Homo sapiens: one gene and its partners. The protein of the gene in region 3 interacts with the protein of the main gene of each other region in a pairwise test. Each region holds a gene or a part of one and is shown on either strand. Other genes may lie near its edges.

Region 1 (10,055 bases), on a different chromosome or scaffold from region 3:
CTATTACTTAATTTCTCATTGACTCTCTTTTAATGTTTACTGATTTTAAGAAACATCAATGAAAGTATTTTTTTTTCCTTTTTTTTTTTTTTTTTTTTGAGGCAGAGTCTCACACTGTCGCCCAGGCTGGAGTGCAGTGGCATGATCTCGGCTCACCTGCAACCTCTGCCTCCCGGGTTCAAACGATTCTCCTGCCTCAGGCTCCTAAGTGGCTGGGATTACAGGTGTGCGCCACCACGCCCAGCTAATTTTTGTATTTTAATAGAGACAGGGTTTCACCATGTTGGTCAGGCTGGTCTCTAACTCCTGACCTCGTGATCCGCCCACTTCAGCCTCGCAAAGTGCTGGGATTACAGGCCTGAGCCACTGCGCCTGGCCAAAATTACATATTTAAGCTTGCTTATTTTTTCCCAGTATACACTAAAACAAACATAGCTATCTAAATATACCTTCATGTAATATATAATCATCTTGCATACCACTCTGACAGATAATATCATCCAGCTTGTCTGAAACTAGTCGGATTTGAGGCCCTAATGACTGATAATGATGTGCTTTCTTCCCCCTCTGGTTGTTATTTTTATTTTTGCAATAGTTTTCATCACCTAAACAAAAAAGAGTAATAAAGGGAGTATTCAGGACTGAGGTAAGGCTAATTATAGAGATGGCTTTTTTTTTTTTTTTTTTTTTTGGTGGAGCAAAGAGTACATTAGTGAAATATTTTGTTTTACTGATTTTCTCAAATCACTTATGCCAAAATTTGGATTTTTTTAATACCTTTTCTTCTCTTATTTTTCACATTTAATTCATCAAGTTCTAAGAACTTGACCTACAAAACATCTATGACGCTACTGCCACTCCAATCCAGACCTTCATCATCTCTTTCCTGGACTACTGCTGTAGCCTTCTGACCAGGTTGCTTGCTTCCATTGTTTCTCTTCATGCCAGTCATTCTTCACACAGTAGCCAAGTGGTCCGCATCATAGTGCCTCCAGATTGCTTCTGAGGCATCCAGACCCACCCCGATTACTCATGGATTATTTCTATGTTTATTAAACAAGGTGTGTCACTAGCTGTTAAAAGATGCCTAACCTTGGGCAAATAGGAAACTCCAATAGTATCATCATTCAGTAAGTTTGGTTCAATCAGTTCAATCAGTGATTGTTTTTAGAAAGAAAATAACTTTCAATTTATGACTTTTTTTTTTTTGGCTTTAGATAGAAAAACTGAAAGTGGAATTAGATGAAGCCAGGCTTAGTGAAAAGCAGCTGAAGCACCAAGTAGATCATCAGAAGGAACTCCTCTCTTGTAAATCAGAGGAACTGCGCGTAATGTCTGAACGTGTGCAGGAAAGCATGTCTTCAGAGATGCTGGCTCTTCAAATTGAGCTGACAGAAATGGAGAGTATGAAGGTAATTTTTATGGCATGTGTTTCTCAGGGTTTTCTCTTTTTTTTTCTGGCATATTTTTACATGTTTTGGTAATAATTCTTAAGAGCTAGTTTGAAGGCTGAAACATTTTTTGACCTAACTTGCATCTAACTAATTAAAAAATGGGTTTTTTTTAGGTGGATGACTTCATTCATAATATAGCTTTAGACTATATGATTATGTAAGGCAGCCTTTCTCTTAGATTAATGAAACGTCTGGAAGAATTTAGAGGCATATACTCTGATCCCAGATTTTATCGTAAGAGCCCAGTGTAAAACGTTGGCTCAGTGGAAGTTGAAATGCATGTGAACTTGGTTTTTTCATTGAAAGCTAAGGTTAATTAAAAATTAAAGCCTGAAATTGATAGAGGAAAAAGGGCAGTCTCTAAAGCCATTTGTTTCCTTGTTGAAAAATTTAACAGTAATAGTAATTTCTATTATTTTAGAATGTACCTGACAACTTTTGACTGGTTCTTTAGTTTTAATTTTGGATGTGAACCACAACTGAGATAAACTGAGCAGCTGCCAAATGAAAGATTATTCAAGAGAATTTCCTCCTTTTCAATTCCTGTTAAATAGACCACCCTCAAAGAAGAAGTGAATGAACTACAATACAGACAAGAACAGCTAGAACTTCTTATTACTAACCTAATGCGCCAGGTAGACCGGCTTAAAGAGGAAAAAGAGGAGCGAGAGAAAGAAGCAGTTTCTTACTATAATGCCCTAGAGGTACTATGATTACAGTAACATCATGTTTTCCAATTTATCATAACTTATTTTCTTGCTAATGTAATCTCTGTTGCCTAAATTGTTTTCTTTTGAATTTAGAAAGCTCGTGTAGCAAATCAAGATCTTCAGGTACAGTTGGACCAGGCACTCCAGCAAGCCTTGGATCCCAATAGTAAAGGCAACTCTTTGTTTGCAGAGGTACTTATAAGTATCCTAACTACTAAATTGGTATTTTCATTTACTACCAGAACAATTAAGCATGTTAATATTTTGTAGGTGGAAGATCGAAGGGCAGCAATGGAACGTCAGCTCATCAGTATGAAAGTCAAGTATCAGTCACTAAAGAAGCAAAATGTATTTAACAGAGAACAGATGCAGAGAATGAAGGTATAGAACTTTCACTATCAAAGGTTTATTAAACAAATTTTGTGTCAGCATTACATGTATGAATACATCAAAGAAACTAGCTTTTTCTGCAAGGAGTGTACTTATATAGTTGTTTCTAGAACTGCATGATTTCAAAAAATCAATTTTGAAATTAAAAGATTCATTTATAGTTTAAAAATCTTGGAATAAATATTTAGTAATAGTATATTTAGCAATGATTATTGTTTGTTTTAATGGTTACTCACTAGCTTTGACTTAAATCTTTCTTTGTGGAGTAGAAGAAAGAAAAGTATTTATTTCTTATTCTTGGCCTGATGTCTTTCCAAGCATAGCCCTAGGGTTCCTACTTCAGCTGAAACTCGCTGCCTCACCATTCCTCTGCTCTTTCACCAAGGCTTATTATGGAGTGAAATTTGGATTATTCAGGGTTCCCTTTCCTTGTAGCTCCTCAAGTCAAGCACATAGACCCTTTTAATTTTACGGGTTTTGTTGGTTGTCATTCTAGCCAAATAAGAGGTAGCAGAAAAACATGTGGGAATTAGAAAGATTTCAGTATTGTAACAGTCCTTAGAATCCTGATCCCTCATCCATTGTGCCTCACTCTACTGAGGTAGTAATTGGAATCTGGAAAGGCTTCCTTCCTTTTATTCAGAATCATGGGCTTTGCCAAAGAAATGGGAAAGGTTAATGATTAAATTTGGGAGTTAGGTGGATTTGGGTTTGAATCATAGTTTTGTCACTTGCTAGCTCTGTGACCTTGGACAAGTATTTTAACTTTGAAAGCAACAGTACCTCATCTATTAAGTGAAGATGATAGAACCCCCTCTTAGAATTGTCCTACAGTTAAATGAAAGTGTAGTAAAATACTTAACCTGCTACTTGGCAAATGAGTGTTTAATGAACAACAGCTGTGAATTTTATTTCTAAGGGTTTCCAGACTGTGCTGCCTCATTTCCTGAGACTCTCCCCTGTCTGGGAAGTATTTCTTTATAAATTTTCTCACGTTTACTTTAGTTTTCTTACAGTATTTGTTGGGGTTACTTTTAATCTACCAATGTTGCATATGTCCCAAACTATCTTTAGAGACTAGAAGCATTCTGAGTCTTAGGCTAAGTGGGCCTAGCCTCCAATCTGAAACAGGAACAAAAAGGATATCCTTTAAAATGTTAAAAGTCATCTGCAACCTCATATCATTGATTGTTTTACTCAAAACTATATTTAAACTAATAGGCACTCTTTTCAACTCCAGAAATTTCCAAAGGCAGAAAGAAATGCTAGATTTAGAGTCTACTTAATTTCCCTCTGGTAGCTTCACAACTCCAGATTTGGGGTGGGGGAGGTATAATGAGGTAAGTTGAGTGCTGCTCTAAAAAAATTAAAACATGGTATATTGAAGATTACCCCAGTATACTAAGATAGCCTTTTATCTTTGCTTTTAACGTCATTTGTGAATCTAACATTTGTGGCTGTCAGTAGCTTAGTTTTCCTCACTTAATTAAAGTTAATTAAAAATTTTGAGAAACCCATCAGAACCTTAATAAGAGCGAGTGCTTATGATAAGCAGTCTGCAGCGTTTGGCCAGGCTTACTTACCAGTTCAGTGGTGTGCTTTCAGACCACAGCCATGCAAGTCAGTTTTATGTTTCACAAAAGTACAAATAATTACATTACAGACTTCAGTTATCATTCATAAGTAGTCAAAATAAGTATTCAAATGTTATGTCTACAAAAAAATTTATTATTAGATTAGAAATAGCTAATTTAGTTTCCAAAATGAGTTCAAAGTAATATAGTACAAATTATGAATTGTATCAAAAAAGTAGTTATCAGAATCTTTCTCTCACTTAATTTTATTAGAGGGGGTAATTTTATTTTTCTAGTTACAAATTGCCACGTTGCTACAGATGAAAGGGTCTCAAACTGAATTTGAGCAGCAGGAACGGTTGCTTGCCATGTTGGAGCAGAAGAATGGTGAAATAAAACATCTTTTAGGTGAAATTAGAAATCTGGAGAAATTTAAGGTATGTATAACAGTTAAAAAAACACACATCCAAATTTTGATTTGAATATCTTAAAATTTGGTTTGTTTTTTAAGTTTAAATTATTAATAAATATCTTGTGGGAGATACTTTGAGACTAAGTAAATGGCTGTTTCTCCTTATACTTAAACATCCATTGGTGATTCTTGCCTGAAACATAATTCTGTGATGATTGCTAAATGGGTAATTCCATCACTTCTTCTATATTTATTAGTTGGAATTTTAGTAAAGGGACAGAAAAGAAAAATCTTTTTCCTCACTTACTCATTCATTTATATCAGTATAGCCTCATGGATTCTTATTTTATCCTATGAGTTATAATCCATTGCTTGCTTTATTTACTCTGATACTCAAATTGTCCCAGATTTGATAGTCGAAGTGCTCTTACTTGAATATTTCCTTACTCTATGGCACAACAAGGGTTTCCTAGCTCACCTGGCCCACTTCTGGGATTAGCATTTCTTCAAGGAACATTGGTTTATTTTAGTTGAGAATGGTATTTGTGTAAGCATTTGTGTGTGTGTGTGTGTGTGTGTGTGTGTGTGTGTAAGAATTCACCCATGTTTTCTAAATAAGTAGGCAGTTGTCCCAGAGTCATTTGTTAAAAAATCAATCTTGATCCCAGTGATTTGAGTTGACACCTTTATCATACATCAAGTTTCCATATATACTTGAGTCTGTTTCTAAATTTTCTGTCTACGCCATTGGTCTGCTTCTCTGTGTGTCTGTACCACACTGTTTTATTAATTATAAAGGCTTTTAAGTATGTTTATCTGGTAGGACTATTTCCTCACTATACTTTTTATTTTTCAGTATTTTCCTGTCTATTTTTGAATGTTAGCTTTCATTTACAAACATCTTGTCTAGCACCAAAAAAAGCTTGTTGGCTTTCTATTAAAATTGCATGCAATTTAAGATTTTATAAATTGACTTAGGGAACATTGATATCTTCATTAACCTCCTAATGAACTAAAGTTCTAAATGACAAATTTTTGTAAATGTTAATAACCTCTTAGGCATTCTAAATTGTAGCCATTAGTATGTCATAAAATCTTAATTAAGTTTACATAACTTTATTTCTGTGTCTTATAAAAACTGTTGAAAGAACTACAAATTTGGTTAAGTTGGCAGCCTTATGTTTCCATCAGTGGGCTCAGAACTATACTCTGAAAATTATGGCCTTAAATCAGGGGAATTTTATTTATAACCTGAAATTGTTTCAAGTTTTTAAGCAGATTTACCTTTTCTATCCCACTAGAGAAATGTATAGTTTCCATCAGTCTCAGAAGAGCTTGCACTACATTCTTGCCTGGGGTGGGGGGAAGAATCTCAGAAGAGGGGGACACCAGATATAAATGTAAGGCTCTCATCTTCCTTTCATATTTTTCCAGTTTATGGTTTTGTTACAAAGGCCAGAATTTAATCCAGCAGGCATTTGTTTTTCTATTTTCAAAGCCAGGAGAGAGAAGGCAGAGCATGTAGGTAAGGCTAGAAGCCTAGGCCTTGTAGTCAGATTTGGGTTCAGGTTCTCTCTTCTTGGTTTACTTTCATCTGTATTCGGAGCCTGTTTCCTTATCTGTAAGAGAGGAATGTTAATTATTTACCTACTTCAGAAGGCAGATAAATTAAATGGGTAGTTCTTAGCGTAGTACGCCAAGGGATATAAATTCAGGAAGTGATGGTGCTATTATTAATAAACATACACTAACCTTATTTGTTATTTATTTTAAGTAATACAAACTTTTGCTTTTTTAAGAATTTATATGACAGTATGGAATCTAAGCCTTCAGTCGACTCTGGTACTCTGGAAGATAACACCTATTATACAGATTTACTTCAGATGAAGCTGGATAACTTAAAGTAAGTGTCTGGGTTGGTGGATGGAAAGATGAACATGTCACTTGCTTACTATGGTAGTGTCAGTGACTACAAAGTTTTTTTGAAATTGCCAAAGGAAATTTTCCGAAAAGAAAGGTAACAAAAATATCTTTGTGCAGATATTCATGTGTGAATACATTTGAAAGACTATTTCCTCCTTTGTCCATTTCCTTTCAAGAATGCATGAGTATTTTTTAAATTTAACACTACTATTGTTAAGGATTATTTAAATTGTTTATTGTTTCTTTGTTACTAAAAACCCCAGAAAAATGTATTTTTAACTAAGAATTCAAATATGCGATGAAATATTTATACCACTACACTTATTATATGCTGTCTTAATACTCGTTGGTTCTCCTTTTTTATTATCATAGCAAAGAAATTGAAAGCACTAAAGGTGAATTGTCCATACAGCGAATGAAAGCATTATTTGAGAGCCAGCGGGCTCTAGATATTGAGCGAAAACTTTTTGCAAATGAAAGATGCCTCCAGCTTTCAGAAAGTGAAAATATGAAACTGAGAGCTAAACTAGATGAATTGAAACTAAAATATGAACCTGAAGGTATATATGTCTCATATATTTTTGTCTTTTAAATTATGAGTAACCTGAAATTATATCAAATTATTTTCTTACTGTAGTTTTATGCAACTCTATTACAAACTCATTTGTAGTTATATACCTATAGTTAATAAAGCAAATTTATTGTGTAAAATAGGTAGGAAAATTCAGGGAGAACTGGATACTGGGTGTGCCTGAATATAACATGTATCCTTTTTGGATATCTAATTTCATCATACTGTATAGTAGAAACTTGAGATTTGAGACTTTCCCATTTTAAGATTACAGTATTTTATGTCATACCTAATAGTTTAATTATGTTGAAGCAGCTGATGTTTGGAAGCTATACGAGGTAGGACTGTTTATAGAAAATCTAAAGTAATGGAGACTTTAAAAAGGTGGGTCTTTATCTCTGCCTCTGATGGAAGTCTGGAGGAGGCCTTCCAGGACTGGGAAAGCACTCCACGGTATCAAGATTCAGGCTTCTTGTGTTTGTTGGTCTGCTGCCATCCTGTGGAGCAGAATTTAGTCATGCAGCCTCACCTGCTGACAGGAAGGGCTGAGAAATGCAGTCTTGATTCTCAGGGGCCATGTTCCTAACTAAATATTGGGAATTCTTTTATTAAGGAAGAACAGTGAGCCAGGCGTGGTGGCTCGTGCCTGTAATCCCAGCTCTTGGGGAGGCAGAGGGAGGAGGATAGCTGTGCCCAGGAATTTGAGATTTGCTTGGGCAATATAGCAAGACCCCATTCTCCACCAAAATGGGGGGGAAAGGAAAGAACAATGAAACATATTAGGGAATATCTAGCAAGTCTAATGACTGAGCTGGAAAGTAGCCTAACCATACAGTCTCTGCATCTTATATACTACAGAGAGTGAAGTTTACTGTATGTAAATTCAAAAACAAAAGGCCAAGTGTGAAGGAGTCTAAGAATGTGATGGTTCTACAACACCCCTTCCCTAAAAGAGTGTTACATGTTTTAGGTTAAGGATTCTCAACAAGTTTTTGTCCCCGCACTCTGCACATGCCTCAGTCTCTCTTCGTATTGTCTCAGTGAACTGCTATGATTCTCAACAATAGTGGGGAGGTTGCCAAAAATAGGAAGGTTTTTACACAATTTTAAAAGGCTTCTCTTGCTCTTAACTCTTTTTGTTTCTTCCATGATTCTAATAGGCTCCCCTGATTAAGAATTATCCATTATGAATTTCAAACATCTGTTGAACTGAACACAGCAAATAGACAGGAGGCAGGGTAGTGAATCCTGATAATGTGGGTTTCAAAGGAGCAGTGCCAGAAAAAGGGGAAATCATGGTCTAAAAGCAACAATGTAGAGCAAAAACAGCAACCCCTTGTGCTACCAGTGTTCCTCAGACTCCACTAACATTTTGATTTTGAAAATGAAACACATCGATAATGGGCATAGGGAAAAGATATTAGAGCAGTTAATTCAGTGGCTGTGTTTATGACCTGTTTAGATAGAATGATATTAGGCCATGAGGATAGAAGGCATTGCAGTAGTCTTTGATGAGACATGATAGGATTGGACTAGGGAAGTATCCATCATAAAAGTAGTCTGATTCTGCTTATATTTTGTAGGTAGAGCTAACAGGCATATATTACCAATATTCAGAAAGTTTGGCCTATTCTTGTCATTTAATCCTTCTAATACACAATACCAAGTGAAGTGGGTGCTTTTAATCCCCATTTTACAGATAAAATGAAGCTCAGAGAGGTTAAATAATTCCCCAAAGACATGGCTGTCACATACGAGGATTAGGATTCGAACCTGGACTCTGCCGCTGTCTCTTCATCTCCACACTGAGATCTTATGAACCACCTTTTTCAAAACACCAAGAGAGAACAGTGAAGCATTCATGCCTAAAGTCAAAATATTGAATTCCCAAGGAAAAATATATAGCCAAATAAACTTTAAAATATATAGTTTATATAGATTCCATGATAAAGAATAAAAGGTAGAAACAAAGGATGCATTTCAGTGAGGAGATGGTTGCATTTTAAAAGAATGGAAAAAGGTATACATATAACTAGTTCTGGCTTCTTGTGTTGATTGTGTCTTTGTTTTCTTAGATTTTTTCTTTTCCCCACTCGTTTTTATTCTCAGAGACAGTTGAAGTGCCTGTACTGAAAAAGAGGCGTGAGGTGCTCCCTGTGGATATAACCACCGCTAAAGATGCATGTGTCAACAACAGTGCTCTCGGGGGAGAAGTTTATCGATTACCGCCTCAGAAAGAGGAGACACAGTCCTGCCCTAACAGTTTAGAAGATAACAACTTGCAATTAGAAAAATCAGTTTCTATATACACACCAGTAGTCAGTCTCTCTCCTCACAAAAATCTGCCCGTGGATATGCAGCTGAAGAAGGAAAAGAAATGTGTGAAACTCATAGGAGTTCCCGCTGACGCTGAGGCCTTAAGTGAAAGAAGTGGAAACACCCCTAACTCTCCCAGGTCAGTGTCCTCTTTTCCTCCAGGCAGCCAGCAGACCTCTCCATCTCTCCTCTCTCGCTGCATGAACTGTGCTGTCTGTTTCTTTATCTACTTTCTTACAATTGCATGCAGTATAATTCCTCAGTTTCATCTACCTACCTTCAACTTTTCCAGAACTTTAAGAAAGACTAAACTGATTGCAAAGGGAAAGGACTCTTGAATAAGGCAATCACATTAAAAAGTTACACGTTTCTGTTTCATGAAAGGGAATATCACAGTTTAACACATCTCTGAATGTTTTATCAGTTTGAATACATGTACTGTTATTTTTCTCCTGGTTCAAGCATGGCCATGAAAGAAAAATTAACTTACTTTCTCAAAGGGCTTTCCAGTAGTCTAAGAAATTTCAGCCTTCTAGGAAACTTAGGTGAATTTTTTATGTCTTTTGAATTGCTTATCCTAGGCATTCAAAAATGGGCTTCAATACTTATTTTGACATTTTTACATATCAAAGCTAACTCATTTTCATTGTTTCCAAAACTTGAAAGCCTCTAGTTTCTGCATAATTGAGTTTGTGACTAAAAGAA
Region 2 (10,209 bases), on a different chromosome or scaffold from region 3:
CTAAAAACACAAAAATTAGCTGGGCATTGTGGCAGGCACCTGCAATCCCAGCTACTCAGGAGGCTGAGGCAGGAGAATCGCTTGAACCCAGGATTGGGAGGCGGAGGTTGCAGTGAGCCAAGATCACACCACTGCACTCCAGCCTGGGCAACAGAGCAAGACACTGTCAAAAAAAAAAAAAAAAAAAAAGTCAGCCTACTTGCCCTGAGACCTCCATGCTGTAAGAAAACCCAGACAAACCGCATAGAGATGTTTCTTGGAGAGCCCAAAAGTCCCAGCTGTGTGAGTGAGGCCTTCTTGGGCCACCCTGTCCAGCCTAGCCCCCAGCTGAGTGACCCTCAGTGACACAATGTGGAACTGAGTCCTGCTCACATTCCAGACCCAGAGAATTGGAAGAAATACGAATCTTTGCTGTTCTAGGCCGCTGTGCTCATGTTATTTTGTCACACAGCAGAAGTTACTGGGGCCATGACCGCCTTTCCTCCTCACTGAAGGAGGGGGCTGTCCTGCAGAATGTTCACACACTGTAAGCACCATACTGAGCACTTTCTGCCTCTCAGGCGCTGTTCCAGGCACAGAGATGGAGTGGGAGAGGGCAGACTGCATCCCTGCTCTGGTGAAACTGGGATTTTTATCCAGGGATAGGGCAGTAGACAAGAAAACACACAAACGTAACTTCAGAGAGATAAGGAGCAATTGGAATGGGGCTGGGGACACAATTAGGTAGAATAGGGAAGATCTTTCTGAAGACACACACTTGATCTGAGGCCCTCCTGTTGAACAGGGGCAAACCATAAAATGATCAGAGGAAAAAGTGATGCCGGCAGAGAGAACAGCAAATGCAAAAATCAAAAAGCACAGGAGGTCTGGGAGTGAAGGCAGAGGGAAAGGGAAAGCCAGGAGAGGGGAATGAGATCAGAGATGAAGTCACAAAAGTCAGCAGGGCCCAGAGCAGCAGCGTCTAGCACACCGCCACCAGCCACCGATGGCTATGTAATCTAAGCTTCCATTTAAACAACAAGCGCAGCTCCTCAGTCCCACTGGCCACATCCCAAGTGCCCAGTGGCCCTGTGTGCCTAGTGGCTATCATATGAGACAACACAGAGACAGAATATTCCCGTGACGGTTCTGTTGGCTGAGATGGCTATAGAATAACTCAGAAGCAGATCAGAACCAGGGTTCAAGGTCAGACCATGTGTTCTTGGGCTTAGTATTCCATTAAATTTCTGAAGGTTCCAGTTTTCCCCAGGGTTAAATGAGGCTTTTCCAGCCCAACAGTGGGTCCAAATTATCCACAGCAAGAAGCCAAGTCCACAAACAGTTGCACACGGGTCCTATCCAAGGAGCATCAGCAAGGCCTCATCCATGGAAACTGGCAGCAGAGGTCTGTGTAACTGACTTCTTTGCAACCTCATTTAAGTTGCCAGTTGGGGCTCCCTGATGTGAAAAAAGAACAGAGCATGGCTACTATTTCAGGGCACCACGCAGAAGGGAGAGTGCCACAATTAGCTGAAGCTGCTTTCGATTAGCAGATTTTCTTCCTTGGTGCATAACATCTGTCCGTGTATAGACATCGCTCCATCTTGCCCCATCAGAGTGAGGGGCCGGGCCAGTGAAACAGGCGGGCCCACAGGGAGTTCAGCATCCATCAGGGCAACGTCCAAGAGGAGCTGGAAATAGGCACTGTGGAACTTGGCACATCGATGGCAGTTTGCCTTAGGGAAAGGCTAAGAAAGGAGACCCTGCTTCCTCACACAAGCTGGGAGGCGGCAGATGGAGACATAAGTTTTCCTTGGGGTTAGAAAGACCTGCTTCGTCATTTAGTATTTATGACATCTCCACAAGTACCTGATCCTCTGGGGTGGTTACCTAACCATGCTCATCTGAGAAACGGGGCTGATGACACCCACCTCATGGAGCTGGGGAGGAGTAGGTGGAATAATCTCTGGAAACACACTTGGCATGCAGCAGGCATTTTGTAAATGGTGGCTGAATCATAATCTTGATAGGAAAGAACCAGGTGAATGAGAGAGATGGGCATGGGAACGTTTGATCAGCACTCAGAACTGGCTCCTCCATTTGTTCAGTCAACACAGGTTAACTCTGCAAATTGGCTCTGGAGCCTTGGAAAACTCCCTCAACCAGCCTGGGTTCCTCTTTCCTACCTGGGGCCCGTAGCTGATCTCTATGGTTCTTCCCAGTTCTCCTTGCCTAACAGAAAGTTTGCAGCCGTCCTTAAGGCGTGACCCACCTGAGTTCAATCGCAGAGGGTGGGCAAAGTACTAACACCCAGAAACCTACAATCTTGGATTTGGAAACAGCCTTTAAAGGTCTTTTGGTCCAGCTCCCAGCTGATCACAAGAATCCCGTTCCCTTCCATGCTGATGGAAGAGCCGTGGCCTGCACACTCTTGCTGCCTTGCAAAGCAGCCCATTCTCTTTTCAGAGAGCTCTAATGTTGGGGATAGTCGATAGAGAGTGAAGGCATGCTCCAGGTTAATGACCCTCTTTAGACGTGGCACCAGCACAGAACAGTCTTCAGTTTCTATGTCTGTAGAATGAACCTGAGAACACCTGCTTCACAGAGGTCGGAATTAAGAGCAATAACATAGCTGGTGGGTCTGGCACGGGAGGTTCAGCGTTTGCTCCCTTTCTCCTCTCCAAATTAAACCTGCTGCAGGACGGGGACCACAGGTTGCTCTAGCGCCGGCCCCTCTACTGTCTTTTTTCCTTTTCCAGTGGGGCCTAACATAGGCTAAAATGTTCTTAGCATGCTTGGTGAACCATTGGCGTCTTGGATTTGTGTGTGAAGCAGAGGTTGGCTTCAGCCCATCACATATAAAACTAAGGAGGGATGGCAAAGCCTAAGGGTAAAATATTTCTCTGATCCACCCCCCACCACCTCCCTTTCTACCTTACACAGTCAAGGAGAGCCAGGAGCCTTCTTAAAATCATGGGGTCCCTATAGAAGCCACTCCTTTGTGGGAGAAGGGACGCAGCTGCAGCTGTGTGGACGTGTTGGCACTCACAGATGGTGAATGGACCGTAGACAGACTGTGGGAAAACACGAATGGGCCATGGTAGGGAAGGCAGCTGTGCCTCCTGGGGCCCAGAACGGGTCCCTACTGTTTGTTATAGAAGGCCTTGAGTCTCAAACCACCCTCAGCCGAGTGCAGGTGGCCCATATGGAAAGAGCCAGCATCCTCTTTGAGAGATGGCTTTGGCCTCTGTCCCTGTCCCCGCTACCTTAGATTTTGCCCACTTTCCTGGTGTTCTAATCCATCTCCTTATTTCCCGTCACGATCCTAAAGCTCTCTTACTGTCCCAAAAGGAAAGGAAGTGATTTGATATACCAGCAGGTCACCAGGAGGTGGATTTAAAAACAGCCAAAGCAGGAAGGCCTCTTACAGAAAGGAAGGACCGTCGTTCACATTTTGGACGGGAGGTGGCTGTGTCAGCTACCTCTGCTCATCCTGCTATGTGGTGTGTCATTTGGCCAATGGCTGTCCCTGACCTCAATTAGGGCTAGAAGTGATGCTCTAGTGAATTTGCCATCTGAAAGCCTGGCCTCTCTGCTCTATTAAGAACACAGGTGACCTTTGCCCAGGGAGCTGGTGCAGGTGGCAAGCCGAGTCTTAGGGGAGACTAGAGTACCACCTCCCGCAGATGGTGACACAGCAGGAAGAGGCTGGGAAGGGGTGTGTGCATCAGGTGAGTCAGCTTTCCTAGGAAGAGTTTGGGGCTTACCTGGTGAACTCCTGTCCACCGGTTTGGCTCATCTAAACCTGTGTGAGAATGAGACCTTAAAGTGCTAAGACAGCCAGCTGTTGGCTGTATCTCCTTCCATGCTGCTTGGGAAAGTTCTGAATACTCACCAGGTGCTCCTGATAAGCCAGTGGCAGCTGGCAGTTTGTCTCAGTCACCTTGGATCTGGAACTGCAGGCCAGAGGTTCAGCTTATGTCTTAGGCCCATGGGGCAAATCAGTCTCAAGATCCTGAATGGACTACATTGTGATGTCACACCACAGGTCGGGGGTGAGCACAAAAAGGGCTGCAGTGGCTGCTGGCATCAGGGCACAGGGCAGGGCAGGAGCAAGAGCCTCAGGCCTCTCCAGAAGAAATCAGCCTGTCTGGGTGCTGTTCTCAGCTGGGGTTGCTGGGAAAGAGTGAGGGATGTCTGCTGTACAGAAAACATCAGCCTGGAAGACTGCTTATGAATCCACCTGCTGCCACTTGCTGCCACGGTTCCTATTCTCACCTGGCCTGCGTCAATTCAGTTAAACCAAGTCCATCCTTCATGCAGTTTTCCTGCACAAAGTGACTTCCGTGGGTACCCCCAGCTCCTTGCACATCTTCTGTGATGGACTTGAAATTCCAGGGCAGCTTTTTCTTCTACCAGTATACCCGTGACTTTCCCCCTACTGCCCACCTGGTAGGGACTCAAGGAAAGAGAAGTAACTTAAATATTAGCTCAGGAAAACAAGCAGAAATATAAATCCTCCCACCTTCAAGTTAAATTCAACACAGGTGTCTTTTAGGTTATCCTCTATAGCATATATGCCTGGGCTACTTTCCATTGTTGGTAATTGATAACTTGGTACAATGTATATTTACTAAGCCTAAAAAGAAAAGAAAAACTCAAAAAAGGGGGCAAAGTATAAAATGTTTCCAGAGATTCCATTCCCTTTTGCTGCTGGTGCTTGGGATTGGGGATGGAGGAGTTCTAACCAAGAGCAAACGGCTTCGCTTTGGAAACTGTTGGGTGGCCCTAAATTTTAGAGTCCAAAACAGTGGGTCTTAAACTGTAGGTTGCATTAGAATGACCTGGAAGACTCGTTAAAATACAGATTCCTGGGCCCCACTCTCAAAGTTTCTGACTCATTAGGTCTGGGGGAGAACCCAATAATTCACATTTCTTACACGTTCCCACATGACGTTGAGGCTGCTTGCTCTGAGACTACACACTTTAAGAACATGTAAGGGTGCTGGTATCTTAGGTTTGATCCTGAAATAGTATTGCCAGCTGATGGCAGTATTCAGGGGTTGCTGGAGAATAAACAGGAGCTGTAGCTTTGGGGCCAAAGCTGGCTGAGCTCTCTGGGTTCAACCAGCACGCTTTACTGAGGATCTATTCATTGCCAGAACTGAGCCACGTTTTGGGGAAGCACAACTGACGTTGTCAGTGCCCTGCCCATAGCCTCTTGGCCTTACAACTTCATTGTACAAAGGTAATCTGACTCCCAGCTGCCAGTACCTGCGTATCTTTGCTTGGGGGCTTTTGCCAGCTGCTGGAGTCCACCCTGCCTACAAGCGGGCAGCTGCAAGTTGCAGAATGTCCTCATTCAATGACTATTATCAGTTGGTAGATAAATAACCCAGCTCCCTCCCTGCTCAGGTGGAATAACCTGGAGTCATGTCCTGTTCCATGTCCCAGAGGACCCACAGGACCCACCCGTAGGTGCCTATGCTAGGCCATTCTCTTCCTATAAAGAAATATCTGAGGCTGGGTAATTTCCACAGAAAAGAGGTTTAATTGGCTCACAGTTCTGCAGGCTGTTCAGGAAGCACGGTGCCAGCACCTGCTTTGCTTCCAGTGAGGCCTTAAGGAGCTGACAATTATGTCTGAAGGTAAACAGGGAGCCAGTGTATCACATGGCAAGAGTGGGAACAAGGCAAGGGAGGTACCACACACCTTTTTTTTTTATTATTATTTTTTATTTTTGAGATGGAGTCTCACTCTTGTTGCCCAGGTTGGAATGCGATGGCGTGATCTCGGCTCACTGCAACCTCCGCCTCCCGGGTTCAAGCAATTCTCCTGCCTCAACCTCCAAAGTAACTGGGATTTACAGGCACCCACCACCACTCCCAGCTAATTTTTTTGTATTTTTAGTAGAGATGGGGTTTCACTTTTTTGGCCAGGCTGGTCTCAAACTCCTGACCTCAGATGATCCGCCCATCCTGGCCTCCCAAAGTGCTGGGATTATAGGCATGACCCACCGTACCCGGCCGGGTACCACACACTTTTAAACAGCCAGCTCTCACAAGAACTCACTATCATGAGTACAGCACCAAGACATTCATGAGGGATCTGCCCCCAGGACACAAACACCGCCCACCAGGCCCCACTTCCAACATTGCAATCACTTTTCAACGTGAGATTTGGAGGGGACGAATATTCAAACCATATCAGTGCCCACAGTGGCAACTGGCTTGCTAACATACCCCACATTGTTGCCCCCATCCCCTGCCTCACTTCCCCGCTCCCCTACCTATGTTTCCTGGGATCAAACTGCAAATAAACTGCTTCCACTCAAATCCTTGTTTCAGGGTCTGCTTCAGGGGGAACCCAAACTAAGACTTTGTAAATAAGAAATGATGTCTGTTCTTTGTAAGTTCACATTTAGATGGAGAAACTATATAAATTGGCTTGGTATAATTCAGAATGTCTGGGAACCGGTGAGTGTCAGGTCTCAGGGCAGATGGAGGTGTTCTGCTGGTTGGCCTTTGGAGTATCATTAGGAATGTCTTGAGGAAACACATGAGCTGATATGCTCAGGGGGAGGCCTGGCAACCTGGCCCAAAGGCCTTTTCCTCTGCACAGGGAGGCCTGAATGTGCTACCCCCAGGGGACTGATTTGCTACACAAATTCCACCTGCTTTCCATCTCCCTGGACAATTCCTCCTGGAATAAGAATATGGAGGTGGAGCTAGCACCATATAAAATATGGCTCTTGTTCATGCTTTTGGGGGAGTTTCAGGTGTTTAGAGAAGGCTCGCTAGGGATATCTGCTGGCCTGTTAGGATTAATATGCTTTCCTAGGTGTTCTGCTCAATACCATGCTACACCCAGCCTCACACCTGCACTGTGGTAGGATTAATCCAACTCTGCCATAGCTTTTGCAGGGAGCCTTAGTTTCCACCCTAACTCCTTCCACATTCTCCTCCCCATTATCATCATCATCACCATCATCATCATCACCATCAGATCTCTTAGAGATCCTGCTAACACACTACAATCCAAATGAAAACACCATGTCGAGAAAGTACTCTTCAAGTCCAGTTCCCATTCTTCCAATCAGACACGGCATGTACTGAAATTCTGGAACTGCCACTGAAAAGATCCAATCGCGGCTTGGCTGATCATTCACACAAATCATTTCTTTAGCAACATGGCACCCAGAGTTATTTTCCTCCACATTTCAACTTGGCTAGAGGAAGAATGAAGCCTACTGTACCAGAGCATTGCATCAATAACAATATCAATATTTTCAGCATTACCCAGGACTCAAAAAATGGCCTCAAACAGTCTTTAGTTCTGCCTCCAGACAAAGAATTACAACTATAAAAACACTTACCTGGGAAAAAATGTTCGACATTATTAGTGATAAGGTAAATGCAAATTAAAACCTCTACATGCCCACCAGAATGGCTAATATTAAAAAGAGCAACAATACTAAGTGTTGACAAAGATGTGGGGCAACTGGAACTCTCACATAATGTAATATAATATAACCACTTTGGAAAATTGTCTGGTAGTTTCCTGTAAAATTAAACATAAAGACCTACCCTATAAGCTAGGATTCTACTCCTGGGTATTTACCCAAGACAAATGAAAACACATCTACAAGCTGGGTGTGGTGGTTCATGCCTGTAATCTCTGTAATTTGGGAGGCCAAGGTAGGAGGATCATTTGAGGCCAGGAGCTCAAGACCAGCCTGGGCAATATAGAAAGACCCTATCTCTACAATAAATAAGAAAAAAGAAAACATGTCCATAAAAAGATTTGTGCAGGAATGGTCATAACTTCTTTACTCATCATAGCCCCAAACCAAAAACACCCAAATGTCCATTAACAGGTGAATGTCCATTAATAGGTGAATGTATATTCTTATAATGAAATATTAATCAGCAACAAAAGGAACAAACTCTTGATGCATATATGATGACATGATAAACCTTGAAAACATTATGCTGAGCAACAGAGGCCAGACATAGAAGAGTACACACATGGTTCCTGTTATATGAAGTCCTGGAATAGACAAAACTGATCTGAGGCTACAGAGATAAGGTCAATGATTGCCTGGAGTGGGGGATGGGGGAACAGGTTAAATGGCACAGGTAACTCCATGGGATGAAGGGAATATTCCAGATCTCTATCATGGCGATGATTACTCGGGTGTATACATTTGTCAAAATTCATCAACTTGTACACTTAATGTGTGAATTTTAGAGCATGTAAATTACACCTCAATAAAGGTGACTATATACACATATATGTATGTGTGGTGTGTGCATATGTAATGTGTAATACACACACACACACACACACCCTAGGTTTTTCTAGGGGAAGAAACTGGAAAGAATACACTAAAATGTGCTAGTTGTTATGTTTCACAGATGAGATTATAGGTAATTTTTGTATCTTCTTAAATTTACCAAAATTTTACCTATGCGACTCTACTTTTTTTTTTTTTTTTTTTTTTTTGAGACAAGGTCTTGCTCTGTACCCCAGGCTGGAGTGCAGGTTTGTGAACATGGCTTACTACAGCCTTGACCTCCCAGGCTCAAGCAATCCTCCTGCCTCAGCCTCCCGAGTAATTACAGGCATGCCACCATGCCCAGCTAATTTTTTTTTAATTATTGTTTGTAGAGATGGGGTCTTCCCTTTGTTGACCAGGCTGGTCTCAAACCCCTGGGCTCAAGCAATCCTCTGGGCTCAGCCTCCCAAAGTGCTGGGATTACACCATCACACCCAGCCTTACTTTTTAAATAACAGAATGAAAAATGTTCATTTTTTAAAAATTTCAAGCTGCTAAAGGCAAGTGCTTATGGTGGTCTATAAAAACTCTGGAGTTTTGCAAACAGAGTCCTTGGTCAAAGTCCCTGTCCCACTACTTCCTCGTTTTATGACCTAAAGGAAGTTACTTCCTGAGCCTCAGTTTTCTTATCTATATAATCAGTTTGTTGGGATGATTGAATTAGGATAGTGTATGTTCAAAGCCCTCTGCAGGCAGGGTGCGGTGGCTCACACCTATAAGCCCAGCACTTTGGGAGGCTGAGGCAGGAAGATTGCTTGAGTCCGGGAGTTCAAGACCAACCTGGGCAACCAAGTGAGACCCTGTCTCTACAGAAAATTTTAAAAAAATTATCCAGGCCTGGTGGCACGAACCTCTATTTCTAGCTACTTGGGAGTCTAAGGGAGGAGAATCACTTGAGCCTGGGAGGTCAAGGCTACAGTGAGCTGTGATGGCATGACTGCACTCCAGCCTGGGCAACAAAGCAAGACCCTGTCTCAATAAAAAAAAAAAAAAAAAAAAAAAAAAAAAAAAGAGAGAGAAAAAACAAAAATAGCCCCCTGCAAACTATAAAACACTACAATGTTAGATGCAATGTTTCACACAATATATTAATAAATCCAGGGCTTACCTTTGTTTCTGACCTCTTAACTCCTTGCTCATGAGCACTACTTCCTCACCAGCTTCCACTCAGTTCCTAAGATTGTCGAACACCCTCCTGCCTCAGGGCCTTTGCACATGCTGATCCCTGCACCTAGAAGACCTCTGCTCCCACATCTTCAACAGCTGGTTCCCTCGGGTGATTCAGAGTTCAGCTCCAGTGTCTCTTGGGGCTTTACCTAATCATCCCAAAATAGCCTCCTCCCACTCTGTCCCATCACTGTGTTTTATGAGTACTTGAAATTGTCTTGGTTTTGTGCTGACTGTCCACCTCCCATCCCATACCACCTTGTGGAGAGGCTTTGCATCGGTTTTGTTCACTGCTGTATGTCCAGCCCCTGGAGCACAGTAGGTGCTCAAAAATCATTTACTGAATGAACGAACAAGTACTTATTGACAATTAGGCCACACGTTGTATGTATTCAGTTCAATCTGCCAATTCATCGCAACAAGGAGAGACTGTGAGGCAAATGCTGCTTGTTCCCACCCCAGTGGCTGAAGGAATCCGTCCAAGACGTGCCCGTCGGCCATAGATCTGAACGCTTGCCACTGCCCATCAGGCTCCAAGTCAGCCACCGTGGTGTGAAGATGCGGGAATAAGGAGGGCATTGTGCTGCCTGCAGAGACACGTTCCGAAAAGAATTCAGAATTCGGGAAAGCACCTCCTCCCACTGGACACACCTCTCCTAGCCAGGTGATTTGTCCTTGCCTCCTTTCCCCGCCGTCTCTTCCCCACCGTGAGCAAGGAAGTCAGA
Region 3 (10,059 bases):
AGAAAATCTAGAAGAAATGCATAAATTCCTCGACACATACACCCTCCCAAAACTAAACCAGGAAGAATTTGAATCTCTGAACAGACCAATAACAGGCTCTGCAATTGAAGCAATAATTAATAACCTACCAACCAAAAAAAGTCCAGGACCAGACGGATTCAGAGCCGAATTCTACTGGAGGTACAAGGAGGAGCTGGTACCATTCCTTCTGAAACTATTCCAATCAATCGGAAAAGAGGGAATCCTCCCCAACTCATTTTATGAGCCAGCATCATCCTGATACCAAAGCCTGGCAGAAACACAACAAAAAAAGATAATTTTAGGCCAATATCCCTAAGGAACATCGATGCAAAAATCCTCAATAAAATACTGGCAAACCGAATCCAGCAGCACCTCAGAAAGCTTATCCACCACGATCAAGTCGGCTCCATCCCTGGGATGTAAGGCTGGTTCAATATACGCAAATCAATAAACATAATCCATCACATAAACAGAACCAAAGACAAAAACCACATGATCATCTGAATAGATGCAGAAAAGGCTTTTGACAAAATTCGATAGCCTTTCATGCTAAAAACTCTCAATAAACTAGGTATTGTTGGAACGTATCTCAAAATAATAAGAGCTATTTATGAGGAACCCACAGCCAATATCAAACTGAATGGGCAAAAACTGGAAGCATTCCCTTTGAAAACCGGCACAAGACAAGGATGCCCTCTCTCACCACTCCAATTCAATATAGTAATGGAAGTTCTGGCCAGGGCAATCAGGCAAGAGAAAGCAATATAGGGTATTCAAGTAGGAAGAGAGGAAGTCAAATTGTCTCTGTTTGCAGACGACATGATTGTCTATTTAGAAAACCGCATAGCCTCAGCCCAAAATCTCCTTAAGCTGATAAGCAACTTCAGCAAAGTCTCAGGATACAAAATCAATGTGCAAAAATCACAAGCGTTCCTATACACCATTAACAGACAGAGAACCAAATCATGAGTGAACTCCCATTCACAATTGCTACAAAGAGAATAAAATACCTAGGAATCCAACTTACAAGGGATGTGAAGGACCTCTTCAAGGAGAACTACAAAACACTGCTCAGTGAAATAAAAGAGGACACAAACAAATGGAAGACCATTCCATGCTCATGGATAGGAAAAATCAATATTGCGAAAATGGTCCTACTGCCCAAGGTAATTTATAGATTCAATGCTATCCCCAACAAGCTACCAATGACTTTCTTCACAGAATTGGAAAAAACTACTTTAAGGTTCATATGGAACCAAAAAAGAACCCGCATAGCCAAGACAATCCTAAACAAAAAGATCAAAGCTGGAGGCATTACACTACCTGACTTCAAACTATACTACAAGGCTACAGTAACCAAAACAGCATGGCACTGGTACCAAAAGAGATATATAGACCAATGGAACAGAACAGAGGCCTCAGAAATAACACTATACATCTACAACCATCTGATCTTTCACAAACCTGATAAAAACAAGCAATGGGGAAATGATTCCCTATTTAATAAATGTGCTGGGAAAACTGTCTAGCCATATGTAGAAAGCTGAAACTGGATCCCTTCCTTACACCTTATACAAAAATTAACTCAAGATGGATTAAAGACTTAAATGTAAGACCTAAAACCATAAAAACCCTAGAAGAAAACTTAGGCAATACCATTTAGGACATAGGCATGGGCAAAAACTTCATGACTAAAGCACCAAAAGCAATGGCAACAAAAGCCAAAATTGACAAATGGGATCTAATTAAACTAAAGAGCTTCTGCACAGCAAAAGAAACTATCATCAGAGTGAACAGGCAACCTACAGAATGGGAGAAAATTTTTGCAATCTATCCATCTGACAAAGGGCTAATATCCAGAATCTACAAAGAACTTAAACAAATTTACAAGAAAAAAACAACCCCATCAAAAAGTGAGCAAAGGATATGAACAGACACTTCTCAAAAGAAGACATTTATGCATCCAACAGACATATGAAAAAATGCTTGTCATCACTGGTCATCAAAGAAATGCAAATCAAAACCACAGTGAGATACCATCTCACACCAGTCAGAATGGTGATCATTAAAACGTCAAGAAACAATAGATGCTGGAGAGGATGTGGAGAAATAGGAACACTTTTACACTTTTGGTGGGAGTGTAAATTAGTTCAACCATTATGGAAGACAGTGTGAAGATTCCTGAAGGATCTAGAACTAGAAATACCATTTGACCCAGCAATCCCATTACTGGGTATATATAAAAGATTATAAATCATGCTACTATAAAGACACATGCACACGTATGTTTACTGAGGCACTATTCACAATAGCAAAGACTTGGAACCAACCCAAATGTCCATCAATAATAGACTGGATAAAGAAAATGTGGCACATATACACCATGGAATACTATGCAGCCATAAAAAAGGAGGAGTTCACGTCCTTTGCAGGGACATGGATGAATCTGGAAACCATCACTCTCAGCAAAATAGCACAAGGGCAGAAAACCAAACACCACGTGTTCTCACTCGTAAGTGGGAGTTGAAAAATGAGAACACATGGACACAGGGAGGGGAACATTACACACTGGGGCCTGTTGAGAGGTGGGGGGGCTGGGGGAGGGATAGCGTTAGGAGAAATACCTAATGTAAGTGACAAGTTGATGGGTGCAGCAAACCAACATGGCACATGTATACCTATGTAACAAACCTGCACGTTGTGCACATGTACCTTAGAACTTAGAGTATAATAATAAAAAAAGTAGCTGTTGTACATTTTATCCAGAAAGGGGGTGTCTGTTATCTTATGGGTGACACAAAGACCTTGTTTTTGCCTATGCTTAGATAATGCTATGAAGTGGCCTTGTCTCATTTTATTGTGATCTCAGAGTACTTTTGTCTCAGCTTGGTATTCTATGAGATTTAAATTGTTAATGTTCAACAGAATAATATTATGGCCAAGCTGTGAGTGCCAGGTCAGCTTCTGAATATCAGGGGCTGCTTTTTGCCCTCTTTCTCAATAATAAACAAAGAGAACATATAAACAAAATATATAGAGAAAAAGAAACACAACCCCACAATAAAATGGGCAAATTGGCATAATCTTATTAATGTGAATACCTGCTTATTTTATAACCAGCAATTCCACTCCTATGTATCTATCTTAGAGATTTCTAGCAAGTTCCTAGGTGATGCTGATGCTTTGTGAACCACTGTCCTACAACAGGGTTTTTCAGCCTCCACACTATTAACATTATAGGCTGGATCATTTTGTATAATTTAGGCTGCTCTGTGCATTTTAAGATGTTTAGCAGCATCCACCCTCTTAATTCTAGTAACACTCCTGAGTTCTAATAATAAAAGTGTCTCCAGACATTGCCAAATGTCTTCTGGGTTTCAGGGGTGGGTGGGAATAGCAAAATTTCCCCCATCTGAGAATTACTGCCCTAGAAAAAGTCTTGGTCCTATACACTAGGAAACATTTATAGGTGTTCATAGCAACTTCATAGAAAAAAACCTGAAAATAAGCCAAATGTCTTTCAACAGGTATATACACAAAACAGAATATTATACAACAATAAAAATGAGTGAATGATAGCTATACATTGGATGGATGAGTGAAAAAAGCAAGTCAAATAATATCCTCAAGAAATAATGCTATTTTATACAACTTTTACTTTTTTATTTTTCTTTTTTCTTTTTTTGATGGAGTTTCACTCTTGTCACCCAGGCTGGAGTGCAATGGGGCATCTTGGCTCACTGCAATCTCTGCCTCCCAGGTTCAAGCGATTCTCCTGTCTCAGCCTCCTGAGTAGCTGGGATTACAGGCACCCACCACCAAGCCTGGCTAATTTTTTGTATTTTTATTAGAGGTGGGGTTTCACCATGTTGGCCAGGCTGGTCTCGAACTTCTGACCTCAGGTGATCCGTTCACTTCCATCTCCCAAAGTGCTGGGATTACAGGCATGAGCTACCATGCCTGGCCTTTATAAAACTTTTGAACAACGGAAACTGAATCCACTAGATAAGGATTCCTAGGTATGTGGTAAAACTATACAAACACTTCTCTACTTACAATGTGGTTACCTCCTGATAAACCCATCATAAGTTGAAAATATCCTATGTCAAAAATACATGTAAAACACCTAACCTACCAAACACCATAGCTTAGGCTACCCTACCTTAAACATGCTCAGAACACTTACATTAGCCTACAGTTGGGCAAAGTCATCTAACATAATAAGGTGTAATAAAGTGTCTAATATACCCTGTAATTTATTGAATACTGTATTAAAAATGAAAAACAGAATGGTTGTATGGGTACTCACAGCATGGTTTCTACTGAATGCATATAGCTTTTGCATCACTGTAAAGTTAGGAAATCAAAGAGAAACCATCATAAGTCAGGGGTCGTCTGTAAAGATAGGCACTAGAAAGGAGAGTGGTTAACTCTTATGTGAAGTTCATACAAGTGGGAGCCTTTTTGGTAACCAACAGAACTGATTACCACATAGTCACACTGTATGAATTAAAACGAAGGCCCGGGATGCACATTGTGTCTCACGCCTGTAATCTCAGCACTTTGGGAGTGTCACTTGAGGCCAGGAGTTCAGGTTACAGTGGACTATGATTATGCCACTGCACTCTAGCCTGAGTAACAGGGACTCAAAAATTAAATTAAAACAATAAATAAAATAAATAAATACAAATAAAATTAAATACAGAGGTTCTCAGAATGTGGTCCTCCCCACCACCACCAGCAATATTACCATCATCTGGGGACCTGTTAGAAATGCAAATTCCCAGTCTCCTTCTAGATCTATTGAACCAGAAGTTCTGGAAGTGGGGCACAGCAATCTGTGTTTTATCCAGCCTACCAGATAATTTTGATACACACCAAAGTTTGAGAACCACTAGATTAAGGGATGAGTTTTACTGGGGAAAGGGGAAACTTACAAAACCAAGAGAAAACACAGGTTTCCCCCTTCTCCCATCATCCCAAGGAGCAGCATGCTGGGGCCAGAGTAGTCTGCTGGATCCATGGTGTGGGTTTGCATAATAGGAGAGGAATCCCATCCTCTTGTTGCTCTCCTATTTATAGGGCACACACAAAAAGAATTTTGTCAGTAAGGAAACTACTAGAGCACCAGGCAGTCTGTTTACAGGCATTTATTTGTTTGTTTGTTTGTCTGAGACAGACTCTCACTCTGTCGCCCAGGCTGGAGTGCAGTGGCACGATCTCAGCTCACTGCAAGCTCCACCTCCCGGGTTCACGCCATTCTTCTGCCTCAGCCTCCCCAGTAGCTGGGACTACAGGCGCCCGCCACCATGCCCGGCTAATTTTTTGTATTTTTAGTAGAGACGGGGTTTCACTGTGTTAGCCAGGATGGTCTTAATCTCCTGACCTCGTGATGCGCCCCCCTCGGCCTCCCAAAGTGCTGGGATTACAGACGTGAGCCACTGCGCCCGGCCCGATAGGTATTTTTTGAAAAAGCCCATTATCCAGTATCTGGAGACCTTGGGTCAAACAGAAAGTTGTTGGAACTTGTGTTGGAAGAAACTGTCCATCCCATGAAAAGCTGAGTTCAGGTGTAGCCCCTCCAACTGTGAGCCAGAAGGTCCAGGTCCCACTGGCTGGTTGCCCAGGAAAATCCAGAGAAAACACCCAAGGTCGTTTCTGTTTGATTCTGGTCATTGCATTAAAGCGTGCAATCAGAAAGCATGAAGGAGACTGACAGGTGTATTAGTCTGTTCTCACGCTGCTAATAAAGACATACCCAAGACTGGGTTATAAAGGAAAGAGGTTTAATTGACTCACAATTCTGCAAGGCTGGGGAGGCCTCAGGAATCTTACAATCTTGGTGGAAGGGAAAGCAAACACGTCCTTCTTCACATGACCGCAGCAAGGAGAAGTGCAGAGCAAAGTAGGGGGAAGCCCCTTATAAAATCATCAGATCTCATGAGAACTCACCCACTACCACAAGAGCAGCATGGAGGTAACTGCCCCCATGATTCGGTTATCACCCACTGGGTCCCCACGTTGGGATTATGGGAACTACAATTCAAGATGAGATTTGGGTGGTGACACAGCCAAACCATATCACCAGGTTATTTTTTTCCTCTCTCTGTAATTTTCAGTGATAGATTTATACTTATTCCTTTTATTATTAATAGTTTATGTATGTAAATCCATAAATTATTTTGTTTGTAAAAAATATTACAAGTTTAAAGTAAAAATTTCAAAACAATCTCTATAGTACACAAGCATACTTATTTCCTTATTTCATATCCTGAGGTTCTTAGAGAGTGTAAGCATACATTATGGAGCAAAAATTAAGTATGATTTACTATTCGTAACCTAAAATTAATTACCTATAATTTTATTTACTTTTGATGTGCAAAATTCGAAATTTTGCCATTGGAAAAGGTTGCTTTCTATGTTTTCTTAACACCACTTTGGAACTTTAAAAGGCATTTAAAAAAATCCCTCATTCTAGTAGCAAGATCACTTAGGTCCACCTTAAAGGTTTTTCTTTTCTTTTTTTTTCTCTAGGAATTGAAATTCTCCAAGAACTTTTAGTTCTATTTAGTGGAGAATAGCTTTACAGACCAAACTCTAGGCACTAGGTGTTAAATGCATTAGTTATTTTACTATTTTAAATTTGGGCTTTCGGAAATGATAATGTGATTTAAAATTAAATGAGAATATCTAGGTAGAGGTCATGTAGAATGTGAAGTGACCCTGCATAATTTTCCTTTTCTTTTGGGTCCTAATATCTTAGATATATATTTATAGGGTATGAGCTTGATTGTTTTTCCTATTAGACTTGTTTTGGCACAATACCACTTATTTCATTTTTTTTTTTTCAAAACGGAGTCTCGCTCCATTGCCCAGACTGGAGTGCAGTGGTGTGATCCTGGCTCACTGAAACCTCCACCTCCTGGGTTCAAGTGATTCTCCTGCCTCAGCTTCCCTAGTAACTGGGAGTACAGGCATGCGCCACCATGCCTGGCTAATTTTTTTGTATTTTTAGTAGAGACGGGGTTTCACCATGTTGGCCAGGCTGGTCTTGAATGCCTGACCTCAGGGGATCTACCCACCTCAGCCTCCCAAAGTGCTGGGATTACAGGTGTGAGCCACCACACCTGGCCTAGTTATTTAATTAAAAAAAAAAGTTTTAAGGGACTCTTAAGGAGAACAACTATTATTAAAGTAGAATTTTGTAGGCTTAATTAATCCTTAAAGAGGATTAATAAGGGGAGAATATAAACAAACATGAAGGTTTGTTTTTGTGTCATCCACACATTTTTTAAACATTTTAAAATTGAGTTTAGTTTATAACTGAGTAGAGTTTAAAATGTTAACATTTTGTCATTAGATAAATGCAAATTCCTATTTGTATTTATTATCTATGCCAAAACATTAAACTGTTGAAAAAATGTATTAAAGTATATCAGTATATTTAACCACATTAATTTTGAAATACAATTAATATTATTCATGAAATATTAAACCATTACCCTGTACGTGTAGCGGGACGAACCACAGACAAGAACCCCTCAGACGACACCGAGTTGTGGAAGGAAAGGGCTTTATTCAGCTGGAAGCATCAGCAGACTCACGTTTCCAAAAACCGAGCTCCCCGAGTGAGCAATTCCTGTCCCTTTTAAGGGCTTACAACTCTAACGGGGTCCGCGTGAGAGGGTCGTGATCAATTAAGCAAGCAGTGGGTACGTGACTGGGAGCTGCATGCACCGGTCATCAGAACGGAATAAAACAGGACAGGGATTTTCACAATGTTTTTCCATACAATGTCTGAAATCTATAGATAACACGAGCAGTTAGGTCAGGGGTTGATTCTTAACTACCAGGCCCAGGGCGTGATGCTGGGCTATCTGCCTGTGGATTCCATTTCTGCCTTTTAATTTTTACTTCTTTCTTTGGAGGCAGAAATTGGGCATAAGACAATATGAGGGGTGGTCTCCTCCCTTATTCCCCCACTTTGAGAACCTCAGTCAATTAGTGGGAGTTCTCACTTTCATCCTCACTACCCATGTATTCTTGCAAGACAGATCGATAGTGATTCATATAGTACAGTTGTTCTGAAGCATTTTGGTGAACTAAGGTAGCGATGAAGCTTTTTATCATTTGAAGAAGTACAGGTAGCAAACAAGGGAGCAGTAAGCAGGTTCCTATTACTAATATAACTCCTATTATAAGAGTTTTAAATCCTCCTAACACTGGGAACCATTTTCCAAACATGGCCCCAGGATCAAATCCATGCCACACTTGCATGGGCACATGTGACAGTTTTATCATATCTCTGACTATGTCTTCAACTACTTGCCCTTGATCATCTACGTGTAGACAGCAATTAGTAAGGTTAAATTTCCCACAGACCCCTCCTTCAGCTGCTAGCAAGTAGTCAAGAGCCAATCTATTTTGATAGATAGCATTTCTCATCTGAGTCTCTTGACAGGCCAGAATAGTCAAGGCTCTGTCGGTTTTATTAGTGATTCTTTCTTTCTTTTCTTTTTTTTTTTTTTTTTGAGATGGAGTCTCACTCTGTCGCCCAGGCTGGAGTGCAGTGGCACAATCTCGGCTCGCTGCAAGCTCTGCCTCCCAGGTTCACGCCATTCTCCTGCCTCAGCCTCCCAAGTAGCTGGAACCACAGGCACCCGCCACCACCCCTGGCTAATTTTTTGTATTGTTAGTAGAGACGGGGTTTCACCATGTTAGCCAGGATGGTCTCAATCTCCTGACCTCGTGATCCACCTGCGTTGGCCTCCCAAAGTGCTGGGATTACAGGTGTGAGCCACCGCGCCCAGCCCATATTAGTGATTATTTCTAAGACAGCTTGTAACCATATGATTTGGTTGAGCATGTAAATGGGGGTCTAGTATCCCCATGAACCATCTCGTCCCCAAGTAGCAGGTCCATAATATTGTATGATTCTCTCTGGGGGCCATTCATTATCTTTCCAATTTCCTATAGCTATGCTTCTTTTTTCATGGGAAGCATAGACAGGGAAGCCCAGGAGTTCGCCTGTCTTTATGGACAGTAGGAAGAAAGATGGTTTAATAGTGCCAGTAATACAACTACCTGCCCACTGGCCAGGTAATTTAGCGTAAGCTCTATGCCCACATAGCCAGTATAATCCAGTGGGGGCTGTCCAGTCCTAGTGGGACTCCAGGTGGGTCCACATGGTTTGCAACCTTGGGAATTTACTAAATGGATTCCTTTCTGTGTGATTTGAACTCCACCAAGTGACTGTTTTTGTGGTACCATTATACAGTTTCTGTCCCAGACAACTAAGTTGTCCTAAGGGGTGAGTGAATTATTTTCCTTCTCTAGCTATGCAATATTGTCCAATAATTGAGGCTTCAGGGTCCAGAAATTATCAAGGTGACTCTTTTGAGCTGGGAATTCATTGGGAACTGGGTCTGTAGGTACTAATTCTTGGGCTTCCCATGGCCATTGATCTCCCATCACAGTTCCTCCACATACATAACATGAAGTGACACTGAGAGACTGGGCTACATGCTTGGCTAATTGCAAAAACAAATTTCTTGTTTTTCCTGGAATTTCTGGTACTGGCACATTTAGTTCATCTTAGAAAGTTTGAAACACTGGCTGAGCAGAGCGTTTGTAAACTTCTCCTCGAACTAAGATATTTACTCAAGGATCCAGTCCTGCCCCATCGATTCCTAAGGTCACATGCTCCCCTCTTTTCCAGCAAGGATCAAGGGGATTGGTTGTTGCTAGCTCTAAGGGGTTACATTGTCCCTTAGTACAGGAAGGGCCACTTTTTCCTTTCTGAAGTGGACTGGATCCTTTTCATTTTTTTATCCAAGTGGCCTAAATGACACAAGACCAGTGTTCACATTCATTTCCACACAGTCCTAATTCATGACAAATGTACTTATTTTCAGTCATATCGCCTTTTTCCCAAAAGAGCCACATCCCTTTCCTAATTTACTGCCACTAATGACAGCACAGGCATCAAATTTCAAGATTATGTGTTTGGGCACCCCTTTCTCTTCTGTTCTGGCTATT

What was found.
Region 1: the proteins of DNAAF4 (region 3) and SPDL1 interact in binary tests that used the Homo sapiens proteins (3 or more experiments, as listed by UniProt).
Region 2: the proteins of DNAAF4 (region 3) and BANF2 interact in binary tests that used the Homo sapiens proteins (3 or more experiments, as listed by UniProt).

Annotation. Positions count from the first base shown.
Region 1 is NC_000005.10:169,592,137-169,602,191, forward strand, and holds part of SPDL1 (protein Spindly), read left to right. Parts: intron 1-1,217; coding exon 1,218-1,412; intron 1,413-2,008; coding exon 2,009-2,158; intron 2,159-2,257; coding exon 2,258-2,356; intron 2,357-2,434; coding exon 2,435-2,545; intron 2,546-4,424; coding exon 4,425-4,565; intron 4,566-6,339; coding exon 6,340-6,443; intron 6,444-6,835; coding exon 6,836-7,023; intron 7,024-9,143; coding exon 9,144-9,489; coding exon of another isoform or gene 9,490-9,688; exon of another isoform or gene 9,689-10,055. UniProt on the Homo sapiens protein: Required for the localization of dynein and dynactin to the mitotic kintochore.
Region 2 is NC_000020.11:17,693,721-17,703,929, reverse strand, and holds the start of BANF2 (barrier-to-autointegration factor-like protein), read right to left. Parts: upstream 3,965-10,209; 5' UTR 3,875-3,964; intron 1-3,874. UniProt on the Homo sapiens protein: May play a role in BANF1 regulation and influence tissue-specific roles of BANF1.
Region 3 is NC_000015.10:55,503,164-55,513,222, forward strand, and holds the start of DNAAF4 (dynein axonemal assembly factor 4), read right to left. Parts: upstream 5,072-10,059; 5' UTR 4,959-5,071; intron 1-4,958.